Regions from separate parts of the Homo sapiens genome. Here region 1 is linked to region 2. The links come from fine-mapping of genetic effects on gene expression. A gene starts in region 2. The other region holds a variant in brackets. All regions are shown on one strand. Distances are from middle to middle.

Region 1 (2,902 bases), 60 kb after region 2:
ACCGTGCCCAGCCTCCTTCCTATTTAATGACTTCTGCCCCTACTTCCTGCTTTCATCATTGCAGTAAGAATGCACTGGTCTAACACTTCAACCCGGCTGTCTTTAGCCAGAGGCAGAGCTTTGAAACCTGGGAATTTACTGCTTGGAAATGGGATGGAATTCTAAACATTTCCCTTTTGAGGGTTTATTCACATGAATCCTGGGCCCCTAGTCTTAGGGAGCTGGAAGGCCGTATTTCTGGAACAGGTGTTCACTACTTCCGTTTATCGGGTCTCAGCCAAGTAGACCTGGAGCTGCTCCCTAGCAGAATGTGGTGCACTCTTCTGGGCGCCGCCTCCTCTCCTCCTCTTCCTATCTCTCCTCCAACATCCAGCTTCCATGCTACCCTTTCCAGAAACATTTCCAATTCCCATCAGCTAGGTTTTCTTTCATGGATTCCCTCTTGCATTCCTTGCATAGATCACTTGGTGCTTTGTACTTTGTCATGCTGTCTTCTAGACCTTAAGCTGGTTAGGTTGAGGGCAGGGCTGCATGCTGTTCATGTGTGCTCTGCCTGGCCTGGCACAGATGTAGCTGCTCCATGGATATCTGCGGGGTCACTGAGCTGAAGCAGGTGGATGCTGGATGCTTGATACTAGATACATTTTCTGGGGCTGGCTCTGATTAATGCTGAGTGAGTTCACCTCACATTAAGATGCTGGTAAGGTGGCTCATGCCTGTAATCCCAGCAATTTGGGAGGCCAAGGTGGAGGATCACTTGAGTCCAGGAGTTCGAGACCAGACTGGGTAACATAGCAAGACCCTGTCTCTATAAAAATTTTAAAAAGTCAGCCAGGCATGATGGTACACACCTTTGAGTCCCAGCTACTAGGGAGGCTGAGGTAAGAGGACTGCTTCAGCCCATGAGTTTGAGGCTACAGTGAACTACAATTGTGCCACTGCATTCCAGCCTGGGTGACGAGACTGTCTTAAAAAAAAAAGATGCTGGTTGTTTTCAGACTAAAATAGTAGCAACAGGTCAACGTATCTGAAATCCTTTAGCAGTCATATATGGTTAGTGTAAATCTCTGTGATAAAAGAAAGATCTGGAATTGATACCAAAGCAGCTCAGTACTTTTTAGTGTACTAACACATTTGTTTTAACAACTTGTTCACAGCTACTGCAATGTTCAGATGGAGGATCAATAATCTCTCCATTCTTTGAGCATCTAGCATATTACTGGACTCATGTGTAATCTCTCTCAGCCTTCTAGGTTTTATTTCCACACATTTTCCTTCCCTTCAACCCGATTCCAACTGACTTCTTTGTATTCAGTTAGCAAACAGGAGTGTTCCCCTAGCTTCATCTTCTCTGTTTTTAAAAGACGGAGTCTTTGGAGTGCAGTGGTGAGATCCTGGCTAACTGCAACCTCCACCAGGATCTGATTCTCCTGCCTCAGCCTCCCAAGTAGCTGGGACGGCAGGTGCCCACCACCACGCCCTGCTGATTTTTAGTAGAGATGGGGGTTTCACCATATTGGCCAGGCTGGTCTTGAACTCCTGACCTCGTGATCTGCCTGCCTTGGCCTCCCAAAATGTTGGGATTATAGGCGTGAGCCACCATGCCTGGCAAGTCTTGTTTTTTCCAAGAAGTTACTTGGGACTTAGGCAGATATGATCCGTCTTCTTAGGTCCTCCTTC[TC/C]ATCCCTGTAAGATGAAGGTGATTGGAAGACCATGAGGTCATCCTTAAGGGGTCCTGTATCAAGGTGTTAAGTAGGTTATCACTTCCACCTTGACTGTTAGCTGGTACCTGCAGTACTTTTTCCCAGAACTTTGGATAAATTCACCAAGATCTACTTGTGAATACATTATACGTAGTAGATTAAAGAGGCTATAAGCTAATGCTTTCACTTTTTCCTCTGAATCCTAAGCATTAGGCACTTAAAACGGGTGTACTCCAAGACAAAGATGTGTTATCAAGTGAAACAAAGTCAGGGTGTCTGTCTCACACAGTTTATTTAACAATAGGTAATAAGAAATCAAATTTAACAGTCTATACAGTGATCCAAAGTTCATATTTATAAGTAATCAACTTTAATTGCATGATTTACAACAGTTGAGGGTTTTTGCTATTTTCAAGTTTTATAGAAAGTGTGTGTGTGTGTGTGTGTGTGTGTGTGTGTGTGTGTGTGTGAGTGGGGGGTAGGGTAAGGAGGAAGAAAGCAAGCAAAGAAGAAACCCCCAGGGACATTTTGCATGTTAAAATCATCCCACCGGAATCGTTTCTTACCCTCTTTTTAATTTTTTTACTTTGTTAGATGTAAAAATAACGAAAAAAATTCTTTCAAGAAACAGAAACCACAATATATAATACATCAATTTGGCAGCTGCCCCTGTATATTTTTGAAAAAGTCATTTTTCTCTCTACATGTACAAATTATTTTAATACTTGAAGTTTTACGCTCAGACTTACAGAATAGAAAATTTTCTGGAGCACAAAAGTTGACTTGAGGGGAAGAAAGGCAGTTTTTTTTTTTTTTTAAACATTTTTTAAAAGAATGAACATCTTTGCACCCAGAGAAAAAAAACTGGTATTTTAATATATATTTATATATATTTATATATATATAGAATGTAATTTTAAAGTAACATTAACCCCTTTTGTCCTCTGGTTTAGAAATGTTTTAACTCTTCCATAAAGTGAGGAAAATAGGGAAAAATGTCAACCATCTGCACCAGTAAATAATAACTATTAATATTACATATGTTCATTAATTTAAAAAAAATAATAAAACCTATTGGAGGTGCAAGGCAGGAGCATATTGTTTGGCTTCACAGGCCTCAGCCTCCTCCCAGTGCACACTTGAACCACACACACAAAGGGGAAGAAAGGCTGGTGGTAACCAGCCATAACAAAAATATA
Region 2 (2,914 bases):
TATATGTATATATTTTTTTTCTTTTTTGAGACAGTTTCACTCTGTTGCCCAGGCTAGAGTGCAGTGGCGCCATCTCGGCTCTCGCGTTCATGCCATTTGCCTGCCTCAGCCTCCCAAGTAGCTGGGACTACAGGCGCCTGCCACCACACCCGGCTAATTTTTTGTACTTTTAGTAGAGATAGGGTTTCACTGTGTTAGCCAGGATGGTCTTGATCTCGACCTCGTGATCCACCCGCCTCCGCCTCCCAAAGTGCTGGGATTACAGGCGTGAGCCACCGCGCCCGGCCTTTTTTTTTTCTCTTGAGACAGAGTCTGTGTTGCCCAGGCTGGTCTCAAACTCCTGGGCTCAAGTGATCCTCCCACCTCAGCCTCCCAAAGTGCTGGGATTACAGGCATGAGCCACTGTGCCTGACCCCTGTTTCCAATTAAAGGAACAAACAGTAGAAGATGCAATTCCATCAGAAGCAGGAATCTGAAAAATCAAGATACATGAACATTGGCCATGGTCTGGATGTATTATTTAAAAAACAAACACGAGCTTGGGAAGATGCGTATTTGGATATTCTTTGCAATATTGTTTGTAAATAGCAAAAAATTGGAGGTAGCCAATGTCCAAGATGAATGGCTAAGTCAATGTGATACATTTACACAATGGAATACTATATACCACAGAATAATGAGATTCGGAAGAGTCAATTTGGATAACTCCCAGTAATCTGAGGTTAAGTGAAAAAAATGAGTGTCTAGAATCCTGTGTGTCCAGTATTAAACTATTTATGTCAATGTGTAAGCACAAACGGAAGGAAAGGGTCACCTGTTCTGAAGCACCCACTGTGTGCCAGGTGCGGGCCTGAACCCCCACTGTGACCTCAGAGCTACTTATTAATGGGATGTGTTTTTCAGAGACTAGGAAGCAGCCTCTGGGAGGGCAGCCCACATGGCAGGAGGGAGCCCAGGACTGCTGACTCCCGGGCCAGCTGCTGGTGCCCCCTCCCTGTCGGGCTGGCCCAAGGATTCAGGCCGGGGCCTCAGTCCTCGGCTGGGGCAGGCAGGAGGCCCTGTAACTCCAGCCGCTGCTCCCGCCCGCCGCCCGCCCCTTCTTCACCTCAGCCTGGGGAAGCCTGGCTTGCCTGGTCTGCCGACAATGCCTCCCATTCAGCCCTGTCCCAGCTGCCAGGCCTGCGGGCCGTGGAGGGGGGCTCCTGCCAGGCGGGGACAGCCTGTCCCTGCGCTGCGCCTCCAGGCTGGACCAGCAGTTCCAGGCGGCATGGAGGGGTGAGTCTTTGGGCCCGATGGTGCAAGGGGGGATTCAGAGCAGCTCAGTGGCCTCAGGTAAGTCTCTGCCCCCTCTGGGCCTCTCAGAGGCTGGCGGGCAGGGGCTCTGGGGACTTCCTGGGGTTCTCCAGGAAGGGGGTCTCCCAAGGTGGGCTCTGAGACACGTGGCAATGTGGCCACTGCCAGGAACTGGTCCTCTGGGGCTTGTCTGAGAGCCCAGCAGTGGTCCCTGCATTATGAATGCTTGTCGCTTCAGCGATCTGTCCCCATGGGTCCCCTCCCTGGCCTGCCCTGAGGCACAGCCTTCACCACAGGCTCTGGAGAAGCCACCAACTCCAACGCAGGGGCTGGAGCCTGGGACCCAAAGGAGACTCCAAAACAGACGATAGTCCAGTGAGCAGCGAGGGGGAGGCTCCTGGGGGCCGGGGAACAGCCCAGCGATGGGGGAGAGGCCATGCCTGACACAGGCTGAGAACAGAGGGGCCAGCTGGGCAGGGGAGGTGATCTATCATCCTAGCGCTTTGGGAGGCCAAGGTGGGACAATCACTTGAGGCCAGGAGTTCAAGACCAGCCCGGGCAACATAGCGAGACCCTGTCTCTACCAGAAGTAATTAAAAAATTAGCCAGGCGTGGTGGTGTGTGCCTGTAGTCCCAGCTACTCAAGAGGCTGAGGTGAGAGGATCACTTTAGCCCAGGAGGTGAAGGCTGCAGTAAGCCATAGTCATTCCACTGCACTCCAGACTCCAGCCTGGGCAACAGAGCAAGGCTTGTCTCTATTTAAACAAACAAACAAAAAAAGACTCAAGGACCCGGACTGGATGCCTCCCTCCTTTCTGGGGGGTACCATTATGCTCCTGCCACCTGGGAGCTGGCATCATATCAGTCTGAGGACAGGCTGCTTCCGAGCCTACCCTGGACCAGAGCCTCACCACAGCCTGAGAACATGCTCTGAACTGGAGTCATTCTCACAGTCAGCAAGTCCTCACTGAGCCATTGGGCAGAGGCAAAGGGACTAACCAGGTCACTTTTCTGAGCCTCGGTTTCCTCCCATGTAAAACAGGACTAATCATAGGACCTCCACTGCGTGGGGGGTGGGGGGCAGGGAGGCTCAGGGTGATTGGCACTTTCCTGGGCCCAAAGGAGGAGGCTCTGAGGGGTTTTTGGGGCAGGAGCTGCACCATGGCTGGGACTAAGTGAGGGACAGCATGTGGCCTCGGCCCTTGTGCACAACAGACTCTCCCTCCCCGTCCCAGGCCCCGGAGCTCCACCCATGTCCCCTTGGTGCTGCCGCTTCTTGTACTTCTGCTGCTGGCCCCGGCTAGGCAGGCCGCCGCCCAGCGCTGCCCACAGGCCTGCATCTGTGACAACTCCAGGCGACACGTTGCCTGCCGGTACCAGAACCTCACTGAGGTGCCAGACGCCATCCCTGAGGTCAGCAGGGCAGGAGCACAGGCACAGAGTGGCAGTGGGGCAAGGTGGGGACCCAGAGGGAGGAGCCTGGGCTGGGCACCAGTTGATCTGCCACCGCCTGCCCGGGAGACCTTGGCAAATTACTTCTCTTTGAGCCTCAGTTTACACTTCTGTAAAATGGGAATAATAAAAACCAGTAACAGGGAGATGATCTATTTAAAATCCTTAC

What was found.
Region 1: its variant is fine-mapped to the expression of CHADL in whole blood (INTERVAL, PIP above 0.99).

The regions. Positions count from the first base shown.
Region 1 is chr22:41,179,152-41,182,053 of GRCh38, reverse strand. It overlaps EP300 (EP300 lysine acetyltransferase), which reads right to left. Exons shown (of 31, transcript NM_001429.4): 31 at 1,977-2,902. Among named protein-coding and RNA genes, the nearest start is that of EP300-AS1, 17 kb to the left of the region's middle. The variant TC/C (reference allele first, on the strand shown) is at 1,681.
Region 2 is chr22:41,239,235-41,242,148 of GRCh38, reverse strand. It overlaps CHADL (chondroadherin like), which reads left to right and starts at 1,218. Exons shown (of 6, transcript NM_138481.2): 1 at 1,218-1,275; 2 at 2,529-2,706. The coding sequence starts at 1,268. RefSeq lists enhancers at 614-1,114, 1,115-1,615.